Homo sapiens: one gene and its partner. The protein of the gene in region 1 interacts with the protein of each later gene in a biochemical or structural test. Each region holds a gene or a part of one and is shown on either strand. Other genes may lie near its edges. The genes, in order: MAN2A1 and SEC23B.

Region 1 (15,630 bases):
AACCAGGCGCAGAGGCTCACGCCTGTAATCCCAACATGTTGGGAGGTCAAGGCGGGCAGATCACGAGATCAGGAGATCGAGACCATCCTGGCCAACATGGTGAAACCCCGTCTCTACTAAAAATACAAAAATTAGCTGGGCATGGTGGCTTGTGCCTGTAATCCCAGCTACTCGGGAGGCTGAGGCAGGAGAATCGCTTGAACCCGGGAGGTGGAGATTGCAGTGAGCTGAGATTGCACCACTGCACTCCAGTCTGCCAACATAGTGAGACTCCGTCTCAAAAAAAAAAAAGATATATACTAGATACCTACTATCCACCTGTCTGCATAAAATATAATTACCTTAAACAGGGCACTCTTTCAGAAAAGCTATGATATGACCTCAAGTGACAGAGTTCATCAAACCAAATGATTTACTTCCTCCCTATTATAGGCACATTTAGCTATACTCACTAAAGCACTAGATGTGAGCTCCATTTCAGTACAATTAATCCTCAAACCTGTCTGAATTTAAAAATGGTTTCAAACTTAAAAATAGCAGCTTGGCTTGATAACTGAAACAGAAACCCATTTTAGTTAAAATGTCCTACTTCCTCTCCTGATTAACCTACTAATAACAACTGAGAAGCAAAAATCACTATTTTAGAGTTCTTCCTCCTTGCCTTAGTTCTGCTCAAACTTTTATAAAAGCTGCTGCTATCAGGAACTTTTACCAAGACAGAAGGGATAAAAAATGCAATAAGGCCTTTACAATCCAGCAAATACAGGTCATCAGAGCTGCTAAATATCCTTTCATTTTCTTAAAGATTACAGAAGTTGGAGAACAAGGGAAAACTAAGACTCCTGAATGCAAAAAAAGCTAAGAATAAACCAGGTGATCAGCAACAGCTAGTGAACCACTCATTCCAGGAAACTCTCAACACTTCAGTCCTTCAAAAAAGACTAAAGTTTTCAGTTATCACAAAAAGCAATAGCTGACTCAAAAACAAATAAAAGTGGTCATTTTAGCCACTATTTTGCCCACAGCCCAGACACCTCTTAATGCAAATTAAAAGCTAAGAGAGAAAATCCCCTTCCAATAATACAATTGTGACATCTCCCTGACAAAAATATTTGTTTAGGCCCTGATAACAGTGTTCATCTGGGAACAACACACCCAATTCAATTTAAAAAAAACAAAAAACAAAACATAAACTACTATCTTCAGACCACAGACAGTCATGAGTATCTGGCCCAGTTGGTTTACAGGAAATAAGTTTGGGTCTTAGTGAAAAATGCTGATCAGGAAGAGACCCACAGGGCTGTTGGACTGAAGAGGAGTTAGAGGACACCATCCTCAAAAGGCTCTAATGTTTGTTCTTGCATTCCTAAATGCTGGATGCACTATCAACGTTCCATCACTTCCCAAAAAGCACAGATCTCCGCATTATATCCCAGAAAATAAGACAATCTCCCTCATACAAACGTGAACAAACCCCAGCACCAAGTGCTATTGTTTATAAATAGACTGCACTCAAGGAAGGGGAAGGAGATCATATTTTCCTTATATGTCATTCTTAAGTAAGATTTACAGATTTATGAAAGCAAGAAAAAAACTGGGGAATCAAAGTCCTAGTTATATGTATTGCCATGAGTCAACTTTCATTAATAACATCTACTATGCTGGACTCTTAAGTACTACTGATGTAAAGTATGTAAGCACATTTCTGTATGTGTATTACAGTAAGTTAAAAAAAAAAAACACAAAAGGCAACTGGGAGCAGTGAATCACACCTATAATCCCAGCACTTTGGAAGGCTGAGGCAGGAGAATAGCTTAAGGCCAAGAATTTGAAACCAGTTGGTCAACATAGTAAGACCCCGTCTCCACAAAATAAAAATTTTAAAACTGGCTGGGCACAGTGGCATACACACCTGTAGTCCCAGCTACTCAGAAGGCTGAGGTGGGAGAATGGCTTGGGCCCAAGAATTCAAGGCCACTGCAGTAAGCTGTGATTCCATCACTGCACTCCAGCCTGGATGACAGAGCAAAACCCTATCCCAAAGAAAAAAAAAAAAAGGTATACAAGTTCTCACCTTCTAATGGCTTTCAATCAAATGCTTATTTAAAGGCATTCTCACTTTCTCACTTGATAAATGTTACATAGGCAAAAAGATAAAGTTTTAACTTCACTTTCACATTTTCCATCGGAGTCTCAATTTCCATATTTTAAGAGTTAATATTAATCTCTACGGTCATATGCTACACTAATTACTTAAAAAGTGATCATTTGTTATACAAAACCTGACTCATTAATTTACTTCTCCAGATCCAAACATCAGACTAATTAATAAGACAACCCTATTATACACACCATAGATAGTAAGCACCTTGTGAAATCTGCTTGTAAGAAGTGATGACTAATTTCAGGGAGACCTTAACAAAGTTTCTCCTTTCCATCTGCTCAAATTCTTCCAAGTTATCATAAAGCATTTTCAAGACATTAGTCTCTGACCAACCTCTCATTCACAGTGGAATTTTTATTAATTTTCTTAGCTGAGATTTATTAACCCTGAAATATACACACAAGTTTCAACAGATTAGGCCCCCTGTTGCCTCTAGTCCTCCAAGGAATTCCTCCCAGAAGCAGAAGCAAGGCTTCGGAGTGCTTCAGGATAGACTTCCAAAGAATATCTTAGAGGCAGGCAGCTGTTCCGGGGTGAGAGAAACTGGAGCACCCTCGGCCAGCCCACTCTTGCCCCAGAGTCCAGCCAAATGGTGGAAAACACCAGAGTTGTGAGAGAAGAGAAAAAGAACAAACCCCCGCTCTCCAAAAAAACAACAAATAGATTGCTCTCAATCTAGGATGGTCTTTAAAAATATCTTGTTTACAAGATAGACCTAAAGCCTAGTGAAGGTTCCGTATCAACTGAAACCAACTAAATGGGCAATTTAGAGGAACCCAATACCTATCTAAATAAACCGTTCTACTAGATACCAAAAAATGACACATAGTGACCGACCTGCTTGGCTCTACTAAAACTCAAGAATTCAATACCCAAACTTGCCAAACAAATGTATTGCAACCTCCTTTTGCTATGTTTGGTATTATTAAGAATAAGTTAGAAGCAGTGAAAAAAAAAAGAATCAACTCAAGTTCTGGATGCTGGACTACACAATGGTTTTCATTATAATGTTTAGCTCTGAAATGAGCTCAAAGACATTCTGGGAAGGGTATAAATCTCTAGCAGTAAATGTTTCAGAAAAAGGACCATATTCATTATGGCTTCAAAATAAAAGTTCCTTTAGTCATAAGCTAAGGTACCAGAGAGCAACATGCTCTATACAGGGGGCAACCAACCCCAGGGCCATGGACCTGTTAGGAACCAGGCCACACAGCAGGAGGTGAGTGGCATAGCAGGTCAGCAAGCATTACCGCCTGAGCTCCACCTCCTGTCAGATCAGCAGCAGCATTAGATTCTCATAGGAGCACGAACCTTATTGTGAACTGCGCATGCCAGGGATCTAGGCTGCATGGTCCTTATGAGAATCTAACGCCTGATGATCTGAGGTGGAACAGCTTCATCCCCAAACCATCCCCCGAAACCCCCGACTCCCCCCATCCCCACCCCTGTCTGTGGAAAAACTGTCTTCCAGGAAACCAGTCCCTGGTACCAAAAAGGTTGAGGATCACTGCTCTATATTTTACATCAGATCTTTCCATAAGCAAATGGCAGCCTAAACAGTAGGCAACAGATTCCTAAGAGGCAAGACAACTCAGTGGCTGGGAGCCTGGGCTACAAAGGCTACCTGTTCAAATCTCAGCTTGCAGCTGTGTGATCTTGGGCAAGCTAATTAATCTCTCCGTGCCTCAGTGCCTCAGTCCCCTCGCCACTTAAGTTTTACCCTGTAAGATACGAAGGCTAATGTCACACACATAACGGTTAAGCTTACAGAGGGGTCTTAGAATGTCTATCTGCTTGAGGATTCAGTGGCCGTCCAAGCACTTAAAGAATACCTTCTTTCTGCAGTGAAAATCCAGTACAGAAAATCTGAGAAAGGCAATCTTAAATGCAAAATGTTCCACCTCCCAGTTGAGTACCAACAGCCTTCCCCTCCAGCAGCCACTTTGACCTTTCATCAAATGCTTTACGCTTAAAGCAGAACTTCAGCCTCTCATTGAGGACTAAGGATAGATATTACAATACTGGAATTAGCTTTGCCTAAGATTTCTCAGTAACTGAATGAGTCACTCATGTCTTTAGATTCTGAACAGAGAAAATGTCAAGGTTGCCAGAAAACCCAGGTCCAGATGTTTGCATAAACCATTTTCAAGTGATCATCAAGCCAAAGCCAAAGGACATTATTTTAGAAAACACTTTAAGTAAAAATATCACTTTTTATGATTTTCCTGTAATGGAGGAAAATCTGAAAATGAGGTTACTGGAGGGAAAAAAATTACAGTAATTTCAACCCCAAAATTACACAACATATCAAGCTAAGCTTAAAACTCCTTACCTTTTTCCAACTGTTTTCTTCAACCTCATCAAGAAGCACTGGACAAGCTCTGAGCTCAAGATTTAAAGATGCCCTCAGTGCTTGTTTCTATTTTCTCTGTCATACTACCTAGGGGAAGCAGAGGCTTTTAAAATTTTGATACATCTCTCTGCAGCAAGATTTTTAAAACCTCTCACCGACAAAACATGTTGAGTGCTCTGTATTGATGACAGCATCCATAAAAGGGTCTTTTTTCACTTTCACAATAATTCCAGTAAAGTTTTTACTTTAATCTCAATTAAATTCAAGCCATTTGCTCTAGCATAACACAAAAAAAATGGCAAGGATATTCTTTGGTCATTTAAGTTATCACAAAAGAGAAAAAAATATATATCAACTTCACGTCTAGGCTTCTCTTTCTCGTAAGTCAAGTAGGAATAGTTAGATTGCCCTGTCAGGGTTTGAGTTCTTCAGGTTCATTCGTTACAGAGCACACTACACACTACACAATACCCAGTTTCACCGCAATTTCTGAAGTGCACGGGTTATATTGGCAAGTAACTTGAAACTGAACTCGCACATGCCGCGCGGTGGATACCCTTCCAAAGGGAACAGACTGTGTCCGCTTTGCTTATTTTTGGTAACTTTAAATAAGACTTTGGATGGGTCGTCTTCCCAACTCATTTACCAATTTAACCACTGGACGCAGGACTGAGCGCCCCACAGCTTTCGGCCGGAGTATAACACGCGCTTCCCCACTCGGTTCCCCCTGTCTGCCACAAACAAACCAGATGTAATAGCTGAAGAATGACGACACTAAAATCAACCTAGAGATTCACATCTAAAAGGGCCGCAACACGAAATAAACTTCTCTCTCTTCAGAGGCAGCGGGGAAGAAAAAGAAAAAAAAGCCTAGGTGGGTTCGGTTTGATCCATTTCCGCGACTCCGTGCGCTCAGGGGCTCTGGGCTGGTGCGGGCGGCTTAACCCTGTGAGAGCCGAGAACGACCCCACCGGGATACGCGGGCCCCGGGCTGGCGGGGGGTGCCTCACGCCGCGCCCGTTCCCCCGCCAGCAGGTGCCCGAAGCCACCCCAACAGGCCGGGTGCGAATGCCGGAACATGGCCACTTTCCTGAGCGGGATGATGCCGCCGCCGCCGCCGCACGCCGCCCAGCACTTTGTTAACTTGGCGCGCCCGGGCGAGGTGGCTCCCAGGAGGTGATCATTGCCGTCCGAGAGCTACAGAGCCCCTGGCCTCGCCCAGCACGGGTGTGGGGCCGCGGCGGGAGGAAGAGGTTGGGTAGCAGCCGCTAACCAGGGGCCCGCACGCCTGGCCCCTCGGAGCCCCGCGCCCCCTTCCCAGGTGCTTACCTGAGGGAAGGAGCCCTCGCGGCGCGGGTTCCTGGGGTAGTCTAAGTGACCCCGGTCCAGCATCAGGTAGAGCGAGAAAATCACCACACAGAAGATCGCACTGCCGAACACGGTGAACTGGCGGCTTAACTTCATTTTCCTCGATAGACTCGGGGCCAGGACACTCTCCTCAGCCAAAGGAGACAGCGCACTGTGGACTCTAGGAAGCAGCCGCCGGAGGCTCCCTTCTCCCGGGCTGCGCGACCTCCGCGCTCTCGGATGCGGGTGCGAGTCCCCGCCTTGCTCCGCACCTAGTCTCCGGCGCCACCACACGCCCTTGGCCTTCGCCCTGGCCTGCCGCCCTCCCCGGGGTCGGGCGCCCCTCTCGAGGCGAGACTCGCCGGCAACTGGGAAGGGGGGCCCCCACAAACTTGATCGCAAGCTCAGCGCCGACCTCCGGCAGGGCGCGCGGGGCAGGCGGAGGAGAGGTCGCTGCCCGCACTTCCTGCCACCGCCGCCCCAACTGAGTCGGCAGGAAAAGTTTTCTCGACGAGGGCAGGCGTGTCCTCCTCACCCAGGGGAGGCGCGGGTTCGGCAGCTCCCGGGCCGGGGCCGCGCAGCTAGGTCAGAGAAGCGGAGGGGAAAGGAACAAGATCGCGAGGAGCCAAGCCCTACAACTTCTGGGCGGGACGGTCGGGCCCGCCCCCGCGGCACCGGCACCGCCCCCGCCTACCCCGACTGAGCCCCTTCGTGCTGCTGCCGCCGCCGCCGCCGACGCTGCGGCTGGGCCGATGTGCACCCCGGACTCCGGGGCTCACGGATTGATGAGTTTCCTCAGAGCTAGCGTCCGCTCGCCAGACTCTCCCGCCCCCCGCCGCCCCTACCTTCCCCCTCCCGGACCCAGGCTCCGCGGGGAGGCGCAGGGGGCGGGCGGCGGCAACGCGGAAAGAAGGAAAAGGAGAGCAGGGAGGAAAGGACCGTCCCCGGAGAGAAGCCCGCTCCAGCTGCAGCCGCTAGCCCCCTCCCTCTTTCCCGCCCCACAAACGCGGAGATGGCGGCGGAAGCGGCGAAAGGAAGCGCCGGTTCTCCAGCGCCACTTGGCGCTCCAGCACCGCCCGCCACGAGCAGGAGGAGACAGCGGCGGCGCAGCAGCCGCTGGGTCAATAGGCGCCCGCAGCGCCTGAGCCGAGCGGGCGGCTGGCCCCGCCCCCTCCCGACGCTCCGAGATGAGGGGGCGGGCCCCACGGCGCCCAATCACAGCGCGTCGCCCGGCGGACCCGCCCCGCGCCTGCCTCCCAGTGTCCCGGCGATAGGAAGACCTCACAGGGCTCTTGTGACCTGGCAGGCAGCTTTCTGGGAGTTGAGGCCTTCGGGGGCGTTCAGGCGCCAGCACCCCCACGTCCAACAGGGGTTGAGCTTACACCCCACTTCCCTTTGTTGCTCAGGTTTCCTATCCTAGGACACTCGGGCCTGGCGTGCCTGGAAGAGTACTTGGTGACGGGCTGGAGGAAATGCAAGAGAAGAGGGCTTGCACATTCTCTTCGGGCTCACTATTTCCTCCTTTGGTGACAGCCTGTTAAAACCTGGGGGAAAGGAGACTGACAAAGGGCCGTCCAGGCACATGTAGAAACATCTGACTACGAAATCCATGAGTGTAATCTGAGAAGTGATGCTTCTGCCAGTTATTGATTTATTGCCTCTCAGCTCCAAATTCGCCCTTTTTGACTGCACTGTAAAAACGGATCTGAGCCTTTTAAACAGTTTTTCGTTTGCCTTCTGGGACTGAAGCTTTATCAGCAGAGGGCGCTGAAGAGACATTACAGAAAAAAAGGATTTTGCTTCCTGATTTCTGTGTATTGATAAGCTTTTGCAGCATACCTGGCTTTCTCCACTGCCAAGGTCCTATAGTGCTCAGTAACTAGCAATTTCCTCTCACATGCCCAACTCTAGGAGCTTTGTAGAGGAGGTGAGACACTACCCCATGAATAACTTCCCTGGCACCCTAGAGGCATTTGCAGCAAGTTGCAGAGGGCACATCTTCCACAAGCTTTGCAGACGTAGCCCAATGGTGACTTCTCTGCCATTCAGTGAGCCAGGTCATGCCCTCTCCAAAAACGTCTAGATCTTAGCCCTGGGAGGAATTGGGGAGGTTCTTCATTGGGCACTCTGTCTCTCAACCCAAGAGTTAGTTATAAGGTTAGCTCCTTATAGCTGCTGTTGCTATATTCTTTAAAGTTCTCTTCTTGCTAGTGAATCCTTCATTACTCTAATCCTCTATTATAGTTAACAATTCTTTTTATTAAGCCTTCCCTGTCCCGGGAGTAGTCCCAAGAAATAGACCTGCAAAGATGGGATTAAAGGTCAGTTTGATTGAGGTTTTGAGCTTTAGCTCCTTGCCAAAGGGAAATGTAATTCATGACATGCTGGGCATCTCAATTAAGCAATTACCTGTGGTTGATCCTGATGAAGTGCCAACTGAAGCCTGTGCCTTGGGGCCCCAAGTGGCTGCTACACTTGACTGCTATGGTTATAAAGATGACTAGAAAGACTGGTGTGGGATGGATTCTTTTGCGTGCTTTTGAGTGGTTATAAAGAGAAATGACAAGCACAGGTTTTTTAACTCTCAGAGTTATGGTATGAGAACCAGAGATATTCTGCAGAATTCCAAAAGCTCTGGTTTATTGTAGCAACAAGAATTATGCTGAGAATCAAACAAAATTTTAATTTTCATGTTACTGAATTATAACTGCTATTAAATTCACACATATTCTGAGTTTTTCGTGTAAAATGGTGTTATTTTTTAATAATAGAATCTCAATACTTGAAATGGGTTGGACCCAGATGAAACCGACAATCTTAAACACGCCAACTCTTTCTCTTATCAGTGGAAGTAGGTTGCCCTCCAGTGTCTAAAGAGACTAGCCTTGCTTGAAAACCTTGACTATAGAGGATGCCACTATCTAGATGGGCTCCCTGATTTCAATGGGGATGACACGATCTCAGAATAGCAGAAACCAGGCAGCACATAACCAACAAAGACAAGGTGGGCGCACATGTACCTTAAAGGGCAGCAGGAAATCAGACTGCCTTGGCTTACGGAGCTGCTCTGAGAACAAAATAGATAGGCAGTTGAAATAGATTATTGCTTGATATTTATAACAGGTAAAAAGATCTAAGTCAGGTAGCCAAAACCTGACTTGAGTCACCACAGTGGATAGTCACAGTCTCTCAGTTCTCAGACCTAAGTCAATTCACAGACCCATAGTCCCTTGGTTGAAAGAGAATCTGTGTTCCCTTTAAGAAGGATCTTGCACCTTGGCTACAGTACACATGGCAAATTCTTTCAAGCTTTCCCCAAAACGACATGTGGCCATTTACTAGTGAAACTGCATTGGCGAAAAGGAAATACACAGATCATTTGAGGTTTACTAAACACTGGCTCTGAGTTGATGCTAATTCCTGGGGACAGAAATCACCACTGTTAGTCCACATACCAACTATGTGGCTACTTTCCCAGTGTAATTGGAATATGTATTAACAGCATAATTTTAATGGCAAAAACAGCAATTACTTTTGCACCAATCTAATAATTGTAACAGACATACTTAGCAACTGACAGGATCCCCACATTGGGATTTAGCCATAGAATGAGGGCTATTATTAGGGAGAGCTAAATGGAAGCTCCAGGAGCTCTTAGAGCTTCCACTTAGCTCACTAAACACAACACTGCATGGCTGGCAGGAATTGCAGGAATCAGTGCTATCATAAAAGTCTTAAAAGGAGTAGGAGTGGTGATACTTACTCTCATTTAATTCACCAGTACAGGATACATCTAGTAGAATAACTGTGGACTCATAAACTTAATCAGGAAGTGATTCCAATTGCTGCTGCTGTCTCAAATGTATTATTTTTACTGAAACAAATCAACATAGCACTTGGCACTTGGTATATAGCTACTGATGTGGCTAATGCTGTTTTCTCTATATCTGTTTGTAAAACCACCAGAAGCAGTTGGCTTTCTCATGTTAGGGCCAACAGGATACCTTCACAGTATTGTCTTGGGGGTATGTCAATTCACCTTAATATAGTCCACAGAGATATTGATTGTCTTGACATACCATCAAATATCACACTGGTCCACTACATTGACAACATTATGCTGATTGGACCTGATGAGCAGGAATTAGTAAGTATTTTAGGTGCTGTAATAATATATATTTGAACCAGAGAGAAGGAGATAATGATCTTGAGTATGAGATGACAACTCTAAAGTGGTCACTTCGGATGTGGGATATGTTCTAGGATGGTAAAGCTATATGAGGACAAAACCACTGAGTCACTGAGAGATGAATCCAAACAGATGGTGTGGGTTAGCAATGGTTAGGATTTGGGGGAAAAGGGGCAAAGTGATTGTTGCAGGGACTGGTCATACCAATCACGTGGCCATGGAAGGAAAGTGGTATAGGCTGAATGTTTCTCTTTAAAATACACGTGTTGAAGTCCCAACCCCCAGTACCTCAGAGTGTAATAGTATTTAGAGATAAGGTCTTTAAAGAGGAGATTAAGTTAAAAAGACGATTAAGTTAAAATGAAGCTGTTAGTAAGGCCCTAATCCAATCTGACTGGTGTCCTTATAAGAAGAGAGAGAGACCAGGGATACATGCACACAGAGAAAAGACCATGTGAGGACAGATTGGGATGGCAGCCATCTGCAAGCCAAGGAGAGAGGCCTCAGGAGAAACCAAACCCGCTGACACTTTGATCTTGGACTTCTAGCCTCCAGACTGAGAAAATAAATTTCTGTTGTCTAAGTTAGCCAGTCCTTAGTATTTTGTTATGCCATCCCTAGCAAACAAATACAGAAGGCAACCACCCAGCTGATAGAAAATACTAGGTAGGTGCAAAAGTATTTGCGGTTTTTGCAGGTAATGGCAACTGTGATTTTTTAAAGGTAATGGCAAAAAAACCGCAATTACTTTTGCACCAACCTAATATTTGCAAACCACATATTTGTTAAGGGACTAATATCCAAAATATATAATGAACCCACATAATTCAATAGTAAATAAATAAATAGCCCAATCTTAAAATGAACAAGTCACCTGGATAAACATTTTTTCAAAGAAGACATACAAATGGCCCACAGCTAATATTAAAAGGTGCTCTAGGTCGGGCACTGTGGCTTCTGCCTGTACTTCCAGCACTTTGAGAGGCTGAGGCGGGCAGATCACTGGTGAAATCCGTTCTCTATTAAAAATACAAAAATTAGCCATGTGTAGTGGGAGGTGCCTATAATCCCACCTACTGTGGAGGCTGAGGCAGGAGAATCGCTTGAAACCAGGAAGCAGAAGTTGCAGTGAGCAGAGGTTGCACCACTGCACTCCAGCTTGGGTGACAGAGCAAGACTCCATATAAAAAAAAAAAAAAAGGTTTTCTAATCATCAGGCAAATGTAAATGAAAGCCACAATGAGATATTACCTCATACCTGTTAGGATGGCTACTAGAAACATGTCAAATAATAATAAGAGTTGACCAAGAAATGGAGAAAAGGAACCCTTGTGCACTATTTATAGGATTATAGACTGGTAGGCCATTGTGGAAAACAGTATGAAGTTCTTAAAAACTTAAAAATAGAACTACCACATTATCCAGCAATCCCACTCCTGTGTATATATCCAAAGCAACTTCTCTTTTTCAGAAAATTAATTTGGATGATCTTGATCACTTATTTACTTTACTGAAATAAGATTTTACTATCACTTATGAAAAAGCTGTATGTTTTCCTATTGTTACTAACATATGAGTCTTTAGGTCTCCAAAAGCTGACAATAGCCATTCCAAGAGATGTGAGGTGTTATCTCATTAGATAGCTGCACTCCCATTTTCATTGCAGAATTATTCACAATAGCCAAGATATGGAATAAACCTAAGTGTCCATCAACAGACAAATGAATAAAGAAAATGTGGTATATATAAACAATGGAATACTATTCAGCTTTTAAAAAGGAAGGAAATCCTATCATGTACAACAACTTAGATGAACCTGAGGAACATTATGTTAAGTGACATAAGCCAGACTCAGGAAGACAAATACCTCATGATCTCACTTATACTGGTATGTGGAATCTAAAGAAGTCAAATTCATAGAAATAGAAAGTTGTATGGTGGTTGCCAGAGGCTGGGAAGTGGAGGAAATGGGGGGATTTTGGTCTAAGGGTATAAACCTTCAATTATTAGATGAATAAATTCTGGAGAGCTAACAAACAGCATGGTGACTATGGTTAATGATACTGTATTGTGTACTGAAAATTTGCTAAGAGGATAGATCTTAAGCGTTCTCATCATCCACAAAATAATGGTAATTATGTGAGGTGATGGATACGTTAATAAGCTTACTTGTGGTAATCACTTTATAATGGATACATGTATCAGAACTTCATGTTGTACACCATAAATATATACAATTTTTATTTACCAATAATACCTCAATAAAGCTGGAAAATAGATTGATAGATAATTGATAAATTGATGATAGAGATATACAGATAAATTAGATGATAAATACATAGGATGGATAAATAGATGAGATGACATAGATGACAGATAGAAAGATAGATAGATGATAGATAGATAGATAGATAGATAGATAGATAGATAGATAGATAGACAGACAGACAGACATTCTGGTTTCCCCAGGACCTTCAGAACAAACCTAGGTGCCTATCCTGGGATACAATCTTTTCATTTGGGAAAGATATGAGAAATTTTATCCTCCCTTTGGATCAGAGCAATTATCTCTGTCATTAGGGAAACAAATTGCTACAGATTTAATCCTTATGCTATGAGAAAATTTTCTAGCAAAAGTGAAAGCAAACATTCTCTATAGTGTACATGTTTCTGGGGCTCAGGAGGCTAGAGCTTTTTGTAGGAACACTGAAAATAGAGGGAAGGGAAGGTACATGAGGGCAGAACCCATATCATAAAGGTTCAAATTTGATTGCTTCTCCAGTACATAAAGCTTTTGTGACTTTGGGAAAGTTACATAATATCTCTAAGCCTCCATTTTCCAACATATTATATTGGGGTAGTAACAGTGATCTTTCAGCCTTGCTGTATGATTGCCACAGGTAGTGACATATTGGGAGAGCATTCACCAGATACTTCCATTTACTCTGGGAAAGGGAAAGATGGGTGCAATTGAGAGGTGAGTAGGGGAGAGAACATTGGAAACAGCTGCTATGGGACATGGAGAAGGAAGTCCATGTGGATAATTGGAGAGCATTGATTTCTCATGGAGCAAGTTCACCATTTTCTCCCTTGTCATCGATCTATGGCTTGAGAGCTCAATGAAAGTGTACTGTGAGCATAATCCAGGAAGAACCCCTTCTACCAGGATGCAAGAACAACGGCCACCCAAGGAATGCTCCAGGTTGGGAGCATATCATAGATATCTGTCATTTTTCCTACCCACTGATATACATTTTTGCAGTGAAGATTAAGTTAAAGTGAGCACTCAATGTAATTTTGAATAGGAAAGGTCTCGAAGGAGTGCTTGGGGTGAGGTTTCTGGAAGGCATGAGGTCTAGCCCCATGCTTCTGGTGATAAGTCTGTATGTGCACAAGAGCCTCAGCTTATATTTGCTAACAATAGGAAAATCTATCTTTTCTGTCAACTGATACTCTAAGTCTGTCTGAGCTCCTCAAAGGCCTAAATAGATCATATCTAAGGGGGACAAATTGGAAAGGAGTAGGACAAAGTTCTAAAGCCTAAAAACTTGAGAAAATTTTATAATTGTGGTTGCATAAAACTATAAATGAATGCGGGTTTAATCCTTTTCTCCACTCAACCTATTGTGAGAATCAGTCTGTCAAAGCCCTGAGCATCCTTACACATTCTTTCTGGGTATGCTAAGAATGCAAGGCCCTGACCATTATTTACTTGTGTCCTCTCAGGGTTGTGTTTGCAGGGAGCAGCCTTGAGCAACAGAGTAATGTCTTCTCCCAAACAATGAGCAGACTGACTTACCACACACTGTAAAGCAGTAAATTCCTCAAGCTCAATATTCCTTTGCTGTGACAAATCCACTGTGTATGTTGCATCCACCTGGACCCTTTCCCTCAGACCCTGTGGGATCTGGGGGACATGAGAAACTAGCACCGACATCAGGCTCAACATCTTCCTGTCTCTTTAACATCTTCCTTTGTCTCTAATCAGGGTGTCTTGTGTTTTCCACTGACATCCACGAAACAGTAGTGACCCCTCGACCTTTTACAGATCTTGAAATTACCCACCTACCTCAGAGACTCTTCATATTGTTGGCATAGCCTTTACCTCCCTGTGCCTTTCTTCCCATGAAAGGAAGCTGCAAGAGAGGATGAGTCAAGTAGCATAATACACTGCTGAGAGAGACATAAGAAGGTAAGGGAAGGAGAGCTGGAGAAGGACTTTATTCTTTATAACCCTTCTCACTATTTGAAATTATGTATTGACTTATTTTATGTCTATCCTCCCAATAGAATGCAAGCTGCTACAAGTCAGAGACCTTGTGATTCAACATTGTATCTTAGTGAGTAAAATAGTGTCTAGCAATATTGAGGCCTAATAAATATTTGTTGAATGAGTGAATACTAATCTTGGTCCTGAGCTACCAGTTGATGTGGATTGGTGGTGCCCATTATGAGTTGCCCTGGCTCGTAATAGATGTCTGTTTGCTTTTGAGCTGCATTTAAAGCTATTCCTTTTGTCTTTGTGAGTCAGCACTAAATCTTTATATTCCTATAAAGTGAGCGTTTCTTTAATAAAAAACGCTTTAAAGATAATTTCTCCCCCAAATTATTTTACTAATCATCTCGATCACGAAAGGAAGTCCAATATAGGGATAGAAAGAAATGAACACCATATAATGCATCTATGCTCAGTGCTTTATTTATGTTGCCTCATTTAATTATCATAACTCTGCAAGACTATTATATTAACATCTATTTTACATATAAAGAAACTTAGATACAGAGAAGTTAAATAACTTGCTTTAGAATAGTTAGCTACTAAATGGTATAGCTTCGTTTTTCTGGTTTCAAAACTCCTCTTTTGATGCAGCATTCTATAGAATTATGATACTTTATACCTCGTATTACAACGAATAGATTTTTGAAAATAACATTTAGGAAGTGTATTGCTCAGATTAAGTGTAAAAATTAGTAATCATTCTAGGTATTTTAAGCAAGAAGTTATTTAATAGAGGATGCTTACAAAAATCCATGTCAGGATTGAAGAAATGGGCTGTAGACCAAGCTTCCAAAAGTGATTCCCCGTATAATACCAAGTGACCTATCAGTGAAGCTAGTACCTCTGAAGACTACTGGAACACTGAGTTCAAGAACATAACCCTATGACAGAAGATGGAGTCAAAAACCTACTGCTGTCAACGGCCTCTGCTGCATATTGTCTTCCAGGAGGCTGAATAATGGACCATGGAACACTGCTGCAGAAAAATGTTTCTATGACCTTAATTCTAAGAGAAATGCCACCAAAAGTGGTCAGGAGGATGCCTTAACTTCTTTTCTCTTAAGTTTTGCATGAGTGTATCGAATTGTAGACCTAATTCATATCATAGCTCTACGTGCAAAGAAGTCTAGGAAATGTTTTAATTTTCCAGCCTCTGAAGTACAAAAGCCACCATAAGAAGAGAGGAGAATGGACAGTGAGTGAGCCAGCCTGCAGTACTTACCATAGGCAGTATTTGTAGAAATACAAATACATCTACAGAGAGAATGGAATAAAATGTTTAAAACTGTCTCTTTCCA
Region 2 (15,072 bases), on another chromosome or scaffold:
TGGCTCTAGTGTTCATTTGTACCCAAAGCAGTGAGGATGGGAGGAGGGGGCCAAGAACTAACCCCCAAGGAGTCCACAGTTAGGGGGAGGAGGAAGACAAAACCATTGAAGAAGGCAGAAAAGGGTTGGTTGGAGAGATTATGAGAAATAGGAAAGTGATGTATTAGCAGCTGAAGGAGAAAGTTTCGAGACATTTGGGCAGTCACCTGGCTCATGCTGCTAGGAAGTTCAAGAAGACGAGAACTGCGGAAGGACACCAGATTTTGTGGGAAGAAAGTAATTGTTAGAAATGGGGTTTCTTTAAATGATGAACAGTCCAATTCTTTAGTGACCAGAAATGTGTGAGCAGAAATAAAGGCGGGAAGAGAAAACATTGTGGTTCAGAAGTCTGCCATTGGGAGAAATAAATTTGAGTTTTAGTGTGAGAGAACATCAAAGCGTAACTATAATTGTTAGTTTTCATGGTGTTAGAGGGTTTTCATATGGAACAGGTGCCTGGAAGAGCTCACCTAGCTTCTCTGGTTAGGGCAGTCCTCAGGCCAGCATTGCCTGAGAGCTGATTAGAGATGCAGAATCTTCAGCTCCTCCCTAGAGTCTGCATTTTAACAAGATCCCCTGGTCATTTGCCTGCTCACTGATGCTTGAGAAGTGCTAGTCTAGGACTTATAGTAAGTGGCAGAGTTCAGACTGGATGTAGCTTAGTCCAGGAATATTTCCAGGTAATGCTAACTTAGATTTTTCTCTCTCTTTTTGTGTGTGTTTGTTTGTTTTTTGGTATTTTCTTTCCATAGTGTCAAAAGTTTGGACAGTATAACAAAGAAGACCCCACTTCTTTTAGGTTATCAGATTCCTTTTCTCTATATCCTCAGGTAAGTAATGTATGTTTCTAAAATAACTACAGAGCAATAAATTTTGATAGAAATTAACTTTATTCTTAGGGTAAAGTGAAGACTTTTTAATGTGTTGAGACTCAGTCTGTAGGTGACAGAGATTGTTCAACCCAAGTCGAATATGTGTCTAGGCAAGACAGCACCCTACGCCCTACAGAAGATAGAGATGACATGCAGAGGGGAGAAAACTCATGCATACATTTTCATGAACAGGCAAAATAGGATCATTGATATAAGGCCGTAAAAAATATCTCTCATGTGTAGAAGTTCTGGGGAAACAGCTACCTCAGCAACAAACCAAGAAAATGAGCACACATGGAGATGAAGATAACAAAACAAAACCACAGTTAGTACAACAAATATTTAATAATATGTCTGTGGTTATTATGTGCATCATAACCAGGAGTGAGCAATAAGCAGCTCCTGAAAGTAACTGCACTCTGCATGAACCAAGCCTTTGGAAGCCATTGGACAAGAGAGAGGAGCAGGAGAAGTAGATGAATTTCCGTCTCCATTGTAACTTAGGAAATAGAGCACAATTCATGGGTGTCTATAAGGATTACAGGAGCTGAGGCCAACTGAGTATTAAATATTTAGCACAATGCCAGTAACCTGTTCAGCACTAAATGTGACCTAGCTCCATAGCAGGTGCCTGGGACTCTGAGGTGTCCATGTGCCAGAGGTTAAAGCTGTGTGGTGTTGTGAGAAGAGCCCTGGACCGGCCAGAGTCAGGTTGAGGTTCCAGTGCTGGCTCCGCAGGGGCTGACCTTAGAGGAGGTTCCAAAGCCCCGTAGAGTTTGGTTTCCCACCTCTAGCAGTGGGGAGTTGGTCTGGTGAAGTGGTTTGCAGTTTTTTTTTTTTTTTTTTTTTTTTTTAAAGCCATGGAATCCTTTCTTTGAGAGGAGCTGCCCTTAAAAGCCAGCACATAAAGCAGACAGAGTTGGTGCTTCTCTGGTTGTGCCTGTGTACCACCCCCACACTGGGTCCCACCAGAGCCCTCATCCCTGGGCCCCTGAGGACTTGATGAAGACTCTAAGAGCACAGCTTGAAAACCAGATGAAATGCTTTCTCAGATTCCTTCTGTCAAGGCATTCTAGGAAAGAGGCCAACAGCCCAGTCTCTAGAGCCAGGCGGCCAGGTGTAGAGTCCAGCTGTGACACTCAGTAGTGGGGTGACCTTGGACAAGTTGCTCGCCCCTCTGTGCCTCAGTTTCCTCACCTGTAAACTAGGGATGGTAAGAGAACTTACCTCATGGGCTTATTGGAAGGATTAAATAGTTCTTGTCAAGTGCTTTGTGACTTGCATGTAGGATGTATTAGATGTCAGCCTTGATTATTATTTAGGAACCTATGATTGAATATTTGGAGTCTCAGGAAGCTTTACACTTCACAAGGCAGCTCATTTTCGTGTTCTGGCAACTCTTTAATGTGAGCTGAAAGTCTGCCCCCACCCCTTCTTCTCATCCTCGAGGGCGAGAACCTATGGTTGCAGTGTCATCCCTTGTCCCTTTCTCCCCTGCACCAACACTTCACCATCCCAGCTTGTGTCCTGAGCTGTCATCTGCTGTTCCTGTGCCTGGAATCCCCTTCCCCCTGGCCCTGTGGCCTCCTCAGCCACGTCTCTCAGGGTGCACTGTCAGTCCCCGGAGCTCTAGGAAGTCTCCTCCTGGCCCTCCACCCCCACTCCCCACTGCTATCCTGTACTCTGGCTCATAACTCGTAGCCCGAGTGTGCCTTTCTCACTGGGCCTGACTTCTGAGAGCAGATATTCTGTCTCCACTGCCTGGCACAGTGACTCTGGAAATAAACATTTCTTTGGCTTTCCTCTTAACTGTGGAAGCTTTGACATACCCAGAGGCCCTTTTCTTAAAAAAATTTTGTATTTTTTTAAAAATTTTTAATTTTTAATTTTTTTGAGACGGAGTTTTGCTCTTGTTGCCCAGGCTGGAGTGCAATGGCCTGATCTCAGCTCACCGCAACCTCCCCCTACTGGGTTCAAGTGATTTTCCTGCCTCAGCCTCCTGAGTAGCTGGGATTACAGGCGCCCACCACCACACCCGGGTAATTTTGGATTTTTAGTAGAGACGGGGTTTCTCCATGTTGGTCAGGCTGGTCTTGAACTCCCGACCTCAGGTGATCCGCCCGCCTCGGCCTCCCAAAGTGCTGGGATTACAGGCGTGAGCCACCACGCCTGGCCAAAGGCCCTTTAAAAAAAAAAATTAATTTTTAATGTGGTAAAACACACATAACAAAATTTACCATCTTAACCATTTTTAAGCATACCGTTGAGTAGTGTTACGTGTATTCCCATTATTGAGCAACTGATGTCTAGAATTTTTCACTTTGCAGAGCTGAAACTCTGTGCTCATTAAGCAACAACTCTCAGTTTTCCTCTTTCCCTAGCCCCTGGTGCCCCCTTATGCTTTCTGTTCTGTGAAACCAGAGAGCCCTTTTCTGGGTTCTCCTATTTCAGAGCCCTGAGGTAGATCTACTCTGTGGGTGTCTAAGAAGGTTACAATTATATGCATTTCTCTTTCCGTTCTTTGTGAATGCAGTTTATGTTCCATCTGAGAAGATCTCCATTTCTTCAAGTGTTTAACAACAGTCCTGATGAGTCGTCATATTACAGACATCATTTTGCCCGGCAGGACCTGACCCAGTCCCTCATCATGATCCAGCCCATTCTCTACTCTTACTCCTTTCATGGGCCACCAGAGGTGAGGCTCTACCCAAATGCTTTCCTGAGGATTGGAATCACCTAACATATATTCTTTTTTAAGCAAATTTACTTAGCAGAACTGTAAAAAAGAAGTAAAATTTGGAGTTTTTATAGTAATTTAACATTATTTCTATTAAAAAATACCTTTAGGAAAATGTCAAAGGACATATAAAGCTATTATTTGTGAAAGGCAGGAATAAATGTAAAAAACTCTAGGAAATAACTTGGATGCTTTCTTTTTCCTTGTGCTTGTATACTTACATCCAACAATTCCATGTCTTGTATCTGAAGGAAAGACTCCTAGATACAGAGTAGACTTTGTGCCAAAAAAAAAAATAGTAAAGGAACTACTATAATAGAGGATCAAATAACAATCCGAATGTTTAATATAGGAAAATAAATAAGTAACCTGAGAAATGCAGTTGACCCTCAGTATTCATGGAAGATTGGTTCCAGGACCTCCCTCAGATACCAGAATTCTTAGATACTCAAGTTACTAATATAAAATTACATAATATTTGCATGTAACCTTGGCACATCCTCCTATATACTTTAAATCATCTCTAGATTAGTTATAATACCTAATATAATGTAAGTACCATGTAAATAATTGTCATACTGTATGGTTTAGGGAATAATGACAAGAAAACAAGTCTGTACATGTACAGTACAGATGCATATTTTTTTCAAATATTTTCAGTCCAAGATTGGTTGAATTTATAGATGTGGAACCCACCGATACGGAGGGCCAACAGTATTCACAAAAAGTATGTAACATAATAAAATAGATAAGTCCTTATGTAAAAATGTTACATGAAAAAAAGTCAAAATAGAAACGTTTCTAAATATTCCCTGCAAAAATAAAGAACTATATGGAAAAAAACAAAATATCAATATTTGTTGTACTTGGGTACACATTTAAAAATTTTCTTTATCGAGTACCACTTACTTTTATTATTGAAATAATTACTAAAATAGCAGGGGGATCACATGACATCAGGAGTTTGAGACCAGCCTGGCCAATGTGGCGAAACCCCATCTCTACTAAACATACAAAAATTAGCTTGGAATGGCGCCAATAATCCCAGCTACTTGGGAGGCTGAGGCTGGAGAATCACTTGAACCCCGGAGGCGGAGGCTGCAGTGAGTTGAGATCGCGCCACTGCATTCCAGCCTGGGCAACAGAGCAAGACTCCCTCTCAAAAAATAAAAATAAAAAAGAAATAATTACATATATAAAAATTATATGTGTATATGTAAATATAATAAATTATATATGTATATATAAGAACTATGTATATAAATATATATGTATATGATTATATATGTATATATAAATATAAATTATATACTTATATAATATAAAATATTACTTACAAATAAATAATAAACGTATTTTTTTTTGAGATGGGGTGTCTGTCACCCAGGTTGGAGTACAGTTGTGCGATCTTGGCTCACTGCAACCTCCGCCTTCCAGGTTCAGGTGATCCTCCCACTTCAGCCTCCTGAATAGCTGGGACCACAGGCACGTGCCACTACAGCCCGGCTAATTTTTTGTGTTTTTGGTAGAGATGGGGTTTTGCCATGTTGCCCAGGCTGGCTTTGAACTCCTGGGTTCAAGTGATCTGCCTGCCTTGGCCTCCCAAAGTTCTAGGTTTACAGGCATGAGCCACTACGCCCAGCCATAATTTATATTTTGTAGTAAACTTTAAAAACTTGTATTAAATGCTGCTTTTCATATAGGTATCCGTATTCTGTCTCATCTACAGAGAATGTCTGTAGAGATTGCTAAAATACATACAAAACTGAGAATATTCAGAATTATTTTTCGTTCCAAGATCAAAAGATATCATTAAGCCTGGACAACATAGTGTGAGACCCTGTCTTTACAAAAAATAAAAAATTAGTTGGGCGTGGTGGCATGCACCTGTAGCCTCAGCTACTCAGGAGGCTGAGGTGGGAGGGTCACTTGAGCCCAGGAGGTCGAAGCTGCAGTGAGCCAGGGTCACATCACTTTACTCCAGGCTGGGTAACAGAGCAACACCCTGACTCTTAAAAAAAAAAAAGGTATCATTAATCTCCGTTCTCAATTGATGAGGAATTATTTGGAGCCTATTTTTCCTACAAAGTTGAGAATGAGTCAGAAGCAGAAAGTGGAAGTATGTCAGGAAGAAAAGGGGTGACTTACTGTGCTGGGCACCATTTGTAAATAGCCTTTGCTGTGGATACCAGGCATGGGATCAGGGTCGGGTGGAAGTGGTTGCTGTGTGGGGAGCAGGGAAGACCAATGCCATCTTTCTCTCTCTTTTTCTTCAGCCAGTACTCTTGGATAGCAGCAGCATTCTAGCTGACAGAATTTTGCTGATGGATACTTTCTTTCAAATTGTCATTTATCTTGGTGAGGTAAGATGATATTATTAATTAATTAATTTCTTTTTGTTTTTAAATTGGAGAAAAGGCATACACATTTAATGTGCACACAAGGAGAATTATTGTCCTTAACTATGGTTTTTGTTTTCTTCTCTTATTTATTAAGTTAGGTTTTTAATGACATTTGTAACCACAGTTTGGGCTTAGAAAGCACCATGGCTTTTATTCTAGTAAATCCCTGGAGTATTTGTATATTTATTAATTTTAATCATATTTGCTGTTAAGTATGGGCCAGGTGCAGTGGCTTATACCTGTAATCCCAGCACTTTGGGATGCTGAGGTGGGCAGATCACCTGAGGTCAGGAGTTCAAAACCAGCCTGACCAACATGGCAAAACCCCATCTCTACTAAAAATACAAAAGTTAGCCAGGCGTGGTGGCACACACCTGTAGTCCCATCTACTTGGGAGGCTGAGATGGGAGAATCACTTAAACCCGGGAGGTTGAGGTTGTAGTGAGCTGAGATCACACCACTGCATTCCAGCCTGGTCAACAGAGTGAAACTCCATCTCAAAAAATAAATAATAATAATAATAATATATGCTGTAAAAAAATCTCAGGTGGTTATTTTAAATCACTGTAAATTATTACCTTCGAAGTTAGGCAAAACTAGTTTTTTCTCCTCAGTAAATATTTTATACATACTGCTGTTCTTTCAGAGTTATATACATACTGCTGTTCTTTCAGAGTTAGTGTTTAGAGCTAAGGTTGTACTTTGATGAAATAACATGGCCCAGGGAACTTTACGCTGTGTCTGTGGATCCCTAGGATGGCTGTGGATAGCTTTCAGTCCATTTCTTTCTCAGTGGGGTTCATGCCCTGAGAAAGGGAATGGCTCCTCTGAATTATTTGCATCTTTATGGCAAAAAATCCTTTAATGAAGATGATGGTGATATTTATATTCAGTGATGCTTTTTCTTCTATTGTATGATCTCTACCTTCTTAAATTGGTTATTGATTTGGTTTCCTAATGGCCAACCATTAGAAATGATTTCTGATGTCGTGAAAAGATATAAATTGTGTTTCAGGATTCCTTCAGTAACTTAGGAAGTGTTAGTTTTCTAATACTCCTAAGTATTTTATAACTTTAAACTTTTTTCAGCATGTTAACACCCAGTCTGCTAGCCACTTGCACGCAAGTGCTAGGCTGTCAGTAATAGTCCTAGACTGAGAGCCGGATGACCAGCTGCTCTTCCCACTGGAACCTTTGGTATCAGTACAGTTGGCCCTCTGTATCCACGGGTTCCACCTCTGCAGATTCAATCAACTGCAGGTTAAAAATAATTTTGAAATAATAATAAAAAATAATACAAATAAAATATACAGCACAGGCCGGGTGTGGTAGTTCATGCCTGTAATCCCAGCACGTTGGGAGGCCGAGGTGGGCGGATCATCTGAGGTCAGGAGTTCAAGACCAGTCTGGCCAACATAGCGAAACCCTGTCTCTACTAAAAATACAAAAATTAGCTGGGCATGGTGGCAGACACCTGTAATCCCAGCTGCTCGGGAGGCTGAGGCAGGAGAATCGCTTGAACTCAGGAAGTGGAGGTTTCAGTGAGCTAAGATCGAGCCAGTGCACTCCAGCCTGGACGACAGAGTGAGACTCTGTCTCAAAAAACAAAACCAAAAAAACAGCACAAGAACGATTTATATAGTTTCTACATTGTATTAGATATTATAAGTAATCTAAAGATGATTTAAAGTGTATGGGAAGATGTACATCGGTTATATGAAATACTATGCCATTTTGTATGAGGGACTTGAGTATCTATGGAATTTGGTATTGGGAGGAGTGGTCTTGGAACCAATCTCACAGATACCGAGGGCCGACTGTACTAAGGATGAAGCTTTCTTTGCCTTAAGCTCATCTCCTTATCGACATTTCTTTTGCAACCCCTGATCCTGTTCATTCACTTGTTTATTGAGCACCTTCTTGTGCAAGTGAGGGGTTCTAAGGATAAAGACAGTGACATTGCTCTCACCTTCCCAAAGTCCTGAGCGTGCTGAACGCGAGTGTTCTTATGAACTTCTGGACCCTGGTGAGCTCGTGGGCATTTCCCATAGGCCAACAGTCAATCACAGCATTTAGACCTGGAAAACGGTAACTGCTACTTTGAGAAGGAGTGAGCAGGCTACAGAAGGAGGCATCTGATGAGAATCCTCTGCCTGGAGCCATATTAATGGCTCTGTTAAGACACATTGCACACTTGCTGTAGCCTCTTTCTCCATTTTTCCTCTCCATTGTCTTCTTGTTCTCCTAAATAACATGCGAAAGCACTTCACTTTATTTATAAAGGTATATGAATCAGTTAATGAATGTTTCTTGATTTCCTGTGTATACAAGATATTTTCTAGACCAGTTGTGGATGAGTATAAAAGAAGGAAGGGTGATAAAATGTGTAGCGTAGTCAGGGAGACAGATCGTCTGCTTTCCACAGTTTAGCATATGGCTTCTCCTCACTGCCTCATCAACACTCATACTTTGATTCTTACAGCTTTTGTCTCCTTTGCCAAGGGTACCCCAATTCAGGGCCCAGGGGGAGCAGGGGATGGGGGTGAGACAATTGCACGCAAGTCTGTATGACTACTGCTCACCAGAGGAGTGTAATATGTGTGCCGTTAGGAAAGGAGATGGGGGAGTGGAGTCTGTGTGGGCAGCCAACAAATCCCTTTCCTTACCAGATGTGCGGAGATGAGAGGCTAGACTGAGTGATAACAGTGGAAGTGGAAAAGGAGGGAGTCCACCGCTCCTTGGGATGAGTAATCCATGGGCTTTGTTAACTAGTTGATATAGAAGAGAGGAGGCATGAGTGACGCCTGACATTCCTGGGGGAATGCGCAGGCGGGGGCATTTTCCTCCTGCTTCTCCTCCTGCCGGTAGCTCTGCTTTGCTCTCCCTCTGAAGCTTGTCATTTTTGATATTAGACTTCTTCACTAGAAACAAGCTCTGGGTGGCGATGGTAGAATGTCAGTGTCAGTGAAGGCTGTTATTACAGTTTCCACAATAGTTTTGGTTGGTTTGTTTCTGTGTAGACCATAGCCCAGTGGCGTAAAGCTGGCTACCAGGACATGCCCGAGTATGAAAACTTCAAGCACCTTCTGCAGGCACCACTGGATGATGCTCAAGAAATTCTGCAAGCACGCTTCCCGATGCCACGTTACATCAACACGGAGCATGGAGGCAGTCAGGTGAGTGAGCTGAGTTCTAACTCCAGTGGTTTGTTCGTTTTATGATAGATTGTTATTGCTATACATCTAAACAGGATGGTTAATATTTTATGTGATGACATAAATTGACACACAGGTAATCTTCCAAATATGACTTCTTTTTAAATGAGTGGTCAGGCCAAGCGCGGTGGCTCACACCTGTAATCCCAGCACTTTGGGAGGCCGAGGCGGGCGGATCATGAGGTCAGGAGATCGAGACCATCCTGGCTAACATGGTGAAACCCCGTCTCTACTAAAAATACAAAAAATTAGCTGGGCGTGGTGGCGGGCACCTGTAGTCCCAGCTATTCGGGAGGCTGAGGCAGAAGAATGGCGTGAACCCGGGAGGCAGAGCTTGCAGTGAGCTGAGATCGTGCCACTGCACTCCAGCTGGGGCTACAGAGTGAGACTCCGTCTCAAAAAAAAAAAAAAAATGAGTGGTCAAAATGTGCTTATGTAAAGGGATTGCCAAGATAAAATACATATTTTATGTTTTAGGATCCTTAAATGGAGAGCCAGTGGGCTTAAGCTAAAGAAATAGATTACTGTGCAGTAAAACAATTCTAATTAGATTACTGTGCAGTAAAACAATTCTAATTTAACCAAACAAATGTTGTAAAAACTTATCTTTTTTCTGTTACATTAATATTAATGTCACTTTTTAATCTTTAAATCTTTTTGTTGTTGTTGTTGTTAAAGGCTCGATTCCTTTTGTCCAAAGTGAACCCATCTCAGACACACAATAACCTGTATGCTTGGGGACAGGTAAGAAATCTTCAGGTATTTGGGGAGGATGCTAAGCTAGTTTTTTTTTAAACTTGTTTTAAAATTCTACAAATTGGATCTCTTTTGGCCTGGAGACAGAATAACTGCGTAAGTTGGGTATTTTGCTGGGGAGTGGCGGGGAGGGAAACAAGTTGAATAACATTACTGGGCCGGAGGTTGAGGGGGCTCCCTGGGTGTGTCCCCTTCCACAATATACAGCAGAACATACCAGGTTCAGGCCAGGGGACAGAGCACTGTACTGTGGCCTCCATGGTGGTGTCCTCCGTCACACAGCCTCATGGCCCCTAGTCCTCTCCCCACCAAGAATACAGGGCAACTTGTCACCATCGGTTTTGCCGCCTCCTCACTTTCCAGCCTAATTCCTTCCCTTTTCTTCCCCCAACCCCGCCTGATTACTACTTTATCTAACTGCTCCCAGCATTTATGTCTCTCTCAGATGAGTCTTTCCTTTCATTCTGTTTTCTTAAAACATTTTTAAATTAAATTTTTTTGAGATATTGTAAATTTACATATAGTTGTAAGAAATAATACAGAGAGATCACCTGTATCTTTTACCCATTTTCCCTTAGTGTTAACATCTTGCAAAAACTATAATACAGTATCACAACCGGGATATTGAGATTTTTAAGGTCAAGATGTGCAGCATTTCCATCACCACACTTATGCACTTTATTTCTATTATTGTTACATTGTAATATATAATGAAATAATTGTACAACTCACCATAATGTAGAATCAGTGGGAGCCCTGAGCTTGTTTTCCTGCAACTAGATGGTCCCAGCTGGGGGTGACGGGAGACGGTGACAGATCATCAGGCATTAGATTCTCATGAGGAGCATGCAACCTAGATCCCTCACATGCGTTGTTCACAATAGGGTTTGCACTCCTATTAGAATCTAATACTGCTACTGATCTGATGGGAGGTGGAGCTCAGGTGGTAATGCACGTGATGGGGGAGCAGCTGTAAATACAAATGAAGCTTCACTTACTTACCTGCCACTCACCTGGTGTGTGGCCTGGTTCCTAACAGGCCAAGGACTGGTACTATCCGTGGCCTGCAGTTGGGGACCCCTGATTTAAAGTGTATGGGAGGGTATGCATAGGTTATATGCAAATGCTACACCATTTTGTATTAGGGACTTGAGCATTTGTGGATTTGGGGATCCACAGGAGGTCCTAAAACCATTCCCCCACAGATACTGAGGGATGACTGTATATAGAAATACAATTGACTTTGGTATGTTTATCTTGTATTCTGTGACCTTCCTGAGTCGCTTACTACTCTTAGGAGTTTTTTTGTAAACTTCTCAGAAATTTCTACTTAGACAATCATGTCATCTGCAAGCCGGGGACAGTTTTATTTCTTCCTTTTCAATCTGAATAACTTTTACTTTATTTTCTCAAAGAATCAGCTCTTCATTTCATTGACTTTATTATCTTTTTATTTTCAATTTCATTGATTGCTGCTCTAGTCATTGTTATTTCCTCTCTCCTGTTTGCAGTAGGTTTTTAAAAACTCTTGGCTGGGTGCGGTGGCTCACGCCTGTAATCCCAGCACTTTGGGAGGCCAAGGTAGGCAGAACACGAGGTCAGGAGTTCGAGACCAGCCTAGCCAACACGGTGAAACCCCCGTCTCTACCAAAAATACAAAAATTAGCTGGTGTGGTGGCATGCGCCTGTAGTCCCAGCTACTTGGGTGGCTGAGGCAGGAGAATTGCCTGAACCCAGGAGGCGGAGGTTGCAGTAAGCTGAGATCACGCCACTGCACTCCAGCCTGGGCAACAGAGCAAGACGCTATCTTGAAAAACAAAAAGAAGTGAATTTATTATAGACAGCTTATAGTTGGGTCATGGTTTTTAATGCACTCTGCTGAGCTCTCTTACTTGGTATATTTAGACCATTTATATATAATGTAATTAATGATATGTTAGGGCTTAAGTGTGCCATTTTATTTTTTGTTTTCTGCTTTTCTTTTTTCATCTTACGTACTTTTTTCCTGCCTTCCCATGAGTTATTTGAACATGTTTTAGGATTCCCTTCTGACTTGTTTGTAATGTTTTTGAGTGTATCTCCTTATTTAGCTTTTTAAGTGGTTGCTCCTAAGTGCCCTAGGTTTTTTTATTTTAATTGAGATGAGGTCTTGCTATGTTGCCTAGGCTGGTCCTAAACTCCTGAGGTCAAGCGATCCTCCCACCTCAGCCTCCCAAAGTGCTGGGATTATAGGCATGAGCCACCACACCTGGCCAGGCCCTAGGTATTACATCATATATGCATAACTTATCACAGTCTACTGGTGTTCAAGCGAAGTCTAGAGACCTTACCTCCCTTTTCAACACTTTACTCTCCTCCATCGGTAATATAATTATGTTAAATATTTCCTCTGCATACATTTAGTATCACATCAGACAGTGTTATAATTTTTGTTTCAAGCATCAAACATAATTGATAAGTCTTAAAAGAAAAACCTATTATATTTCTCTACATGGTTGCTTTTATTGTTTTCTTTCTTTTTAGAGATCTTTTAGCCATTCTTTTTTTCTTTTTTCTTTTCTTTTTTTTTTTTTTTTGTTTTTTTGAGATGGAGTTTTGCACTTGTTGCCCAGGCTGGAGTGCAATGGTGTGATCTCAGCTCACCGCAACCTCCGCCTCCAGGTTCAAGCAATTCTCCTGCCTCAGCCTCCCGAGTAGCTGGGATTACAGGCATGCACCACCACGCCTGACTAATTTTGTATTTTTAGTAGAGACAGGGTTTCTCCATGTTGGTCAGGCTGGTCTCGAACTCCTGACCTCAGGTGATCCGCCCGCCTCAGCCTCTGAAAGTGCTGGGATTACAGGCATGAGCCACCGCGCCTGGCCTACTTTTAACCATTCTTTTAGCATAGGTCTTCTGGTGATAGATTTTTAGTTTTCTTTTATTTGAGAATGTCTTGACGTCCCTTTCATTTCTGAAGAATATTTTCTCTGCATATAGGATTCTGACTAACAGCCCTTTTCTTTAAGCAGTTGAAAAATATTGTGCTGCTTCCTCTGGCCTTTATGGTTTCTTATGAAAAGTTCACTGTCAGTCTCATTGTTTTCCCCTGTAGAGAAGGTGTCATTTTCCTCTGGCTGCTTCCAGTAGTCTTTTTCTGTTGTTAGTTTTCAGGGTGGATGGGCAGGGGCAGAGAAGAAAGTGTAATTATGACATGTCTTGGCATGGATTTCTGTGGGTTTATCCTGTTTTGATTTACTCAGCTTTTTGCTTCTGTAGGTTTCTATCTCTTGCCAAATAGGAAAGTTTTCAGTCCTTATTTCTTTGAATGCCTTTTCACCTGCTCTCTTTTCTTTCTTTCTTGACATCCAGTGACATGAATGTTAGATCTTTTGCAGTACCCCAGGTACTACATTTCCATGTATTTTCTTTCTTTTGTTCATTTGGGTAACTTCTATTGTTTTGTCTTCCAATGTATTGATTCTTTTTTCTGTTCTCTTTCTGCATTGAACCTATGCACTGCGCTTTTTGTTTGTCACTGTATTTTTCAGTTACAAAATTTCCTTTTGGTTCTCCGTGACTTCCACTTCTTTCCTGGGACCTTGTTGTTTCTTTGCTGAGGCTTCCTATTTTTTCATTTGTTTCAAGTGTGTTTGTAATTGCTCATGAAGCATTTTTATCATGGCTGTTTTAAAATCTTTGTCAGGTGATTCTAACATTGTTGTCAACTTAGTGTTAACACCTGTCACTTGTCTTTTTTAATTCAGGTGGAGGTCTTGGTAATCACTTTGTGTAAGTGATTTTTTTATTGAAACTTGGACACTTGAGTGTTTGTATGAGACCCTGGATCTTATTTAAACCTGCTACTTTTCGCTGATTTTTTCTTACACTACTCTGACAGGGAAGGTGGTTGGTGGGGGGGGTGTCGGGGGCACTGGTGGGCTCCATTACTGCCAGGTGGAGAAGTCCAGGTTTTCCACTGGCCTCTGTTGACACCTCGGGGTGTCTAGTGATTTCTTGTTACTGCTTAGTGGGAATGAGAGTTCCAGCTCCCCCATAGCCTCCAGTGAGACCGCTGTGGAGATGGCCTTGTTACACTTGGGTGATGGTGAAAGTCCTGACCCTCCTCCAGGCCTCTGAGGCCACCCCAGTAGGCAGGCGGAGGGACATATATTTTGCCAGGTTGCGGTGGAAGTCCAGGCTCCCCAAATGGCCTCTACTGACACCACAGGGGTAGGAAAATTTTTTTACTTGGCCATTGGGGATGAACTTCCTGGTTCCATACTTAGCCTTCTCTGGCACCATCTTGGTGGGAGTATTAGGGTGCCTTGTTACTGCCTTGTGAGGGTAGAAATTGTAGCTGCCCACCCAGCCTTTGCTGGTTCAGGTGGGTCAGGGCCACAGTTTTTCCTCTCATTTTTGCCCGGAGTACAGTGGTTATTATCTAAGATTGTTCTGTCTTGCTAGGCTGCTTTAGTCCTTTGGCTAGAGAAAGTGGGTGTTTTTTGTTGTTTTGTTTTGTTTGAGTCTGTGCTCAATGACAATTTGCCAGCTTCCTCAGCTCCAAATTCAGAGTATATGAGGCATAAGAAAGCCCAAGGAACTCACTGCTGTGCATCCTTGGGTCCCAAGGTCTTTAGTTTTTCTGTCTTCTCTCCACCTTTAAAAGTCTTCTTATGTTTGGTTTACATAAGATGCCCGAAGTTTTCAGTTGTACTTAGTGGGAGGAATAGAGAAAAGTATATATTCTATTCCTTCCTCGAAATCCTCTGAAAACATTTTGATCATGCTTACACTTTTCTAATTATAACAGTATGGTTTCATTTTAGAAAATTTGAATATGTTTTAAAAAATAAGAAAATTTAAATTACCTAGAATCATTATTTAAAGAGTTAACTATTTCCAGCTTTTTTCTACGTAAAGTGTATTATTGTGTGTGTGTGTATATATATATATATTTTTAATTTCTTTACAAAATTGGAATCTTACTACAAATTGAGGTTTCTATTCAATTTTTCCCATAACATTAATAAAATTATAAGCTTTTTCTGATATTTGAAATATCCATCTG

What was found.
Region 2: the proteins of MAN2A1 (region 1) and SEC23B interact in a test that uses a peptide from one of them, tested with the Homo sapiens proteins (one study listed by BioGRID).

The regions. Positions count from the first base shown.
Region 1 is NC_000005.10:109,680,769-109,696,398, reverse strand, and holds the start of MAN2A1 (alpha-mannosidase 2), read right to left. Parts: upstream 6,473-15,630; 5' UTR 5,982-6,472; coding exon 5,847-5,981; exon of another isoform or gene 5,300-5,846; intron 4,518-5,299; exon of another isoform or gene 4,497-4,517; intron 1-4,496. UniProt on the Homo sapiens protein: Catalyzes the first committed step in the biosynthesis of complex N-glycans. It controls conversion of high mannose to complex N-glycans; the final hydrolytic step in the N-glycan maturation pathway.
Region 2 is NC_000020.11:18,545,165-18,560,236, forward strand, and holds part of SEC23B (protein transport protein Sec23B), read left to right. Parts: intron 1-791; coding exon 792-869; intron 870-3,444; coding exon 3,445-3,606; intron 3,607-5,924; coding exon 5,925-6,011; intron 6,012-9,070; coding exon 9,071-9,226; intron 9,227-9,943; coding exon 9,944-10,009; intron 10,010-15,072. UniProt on the Homo sapiens protein: Component of the coat protein complex II (COPII) which promotes the formation of transport vesicles from the endoplasmic reticulum (ER).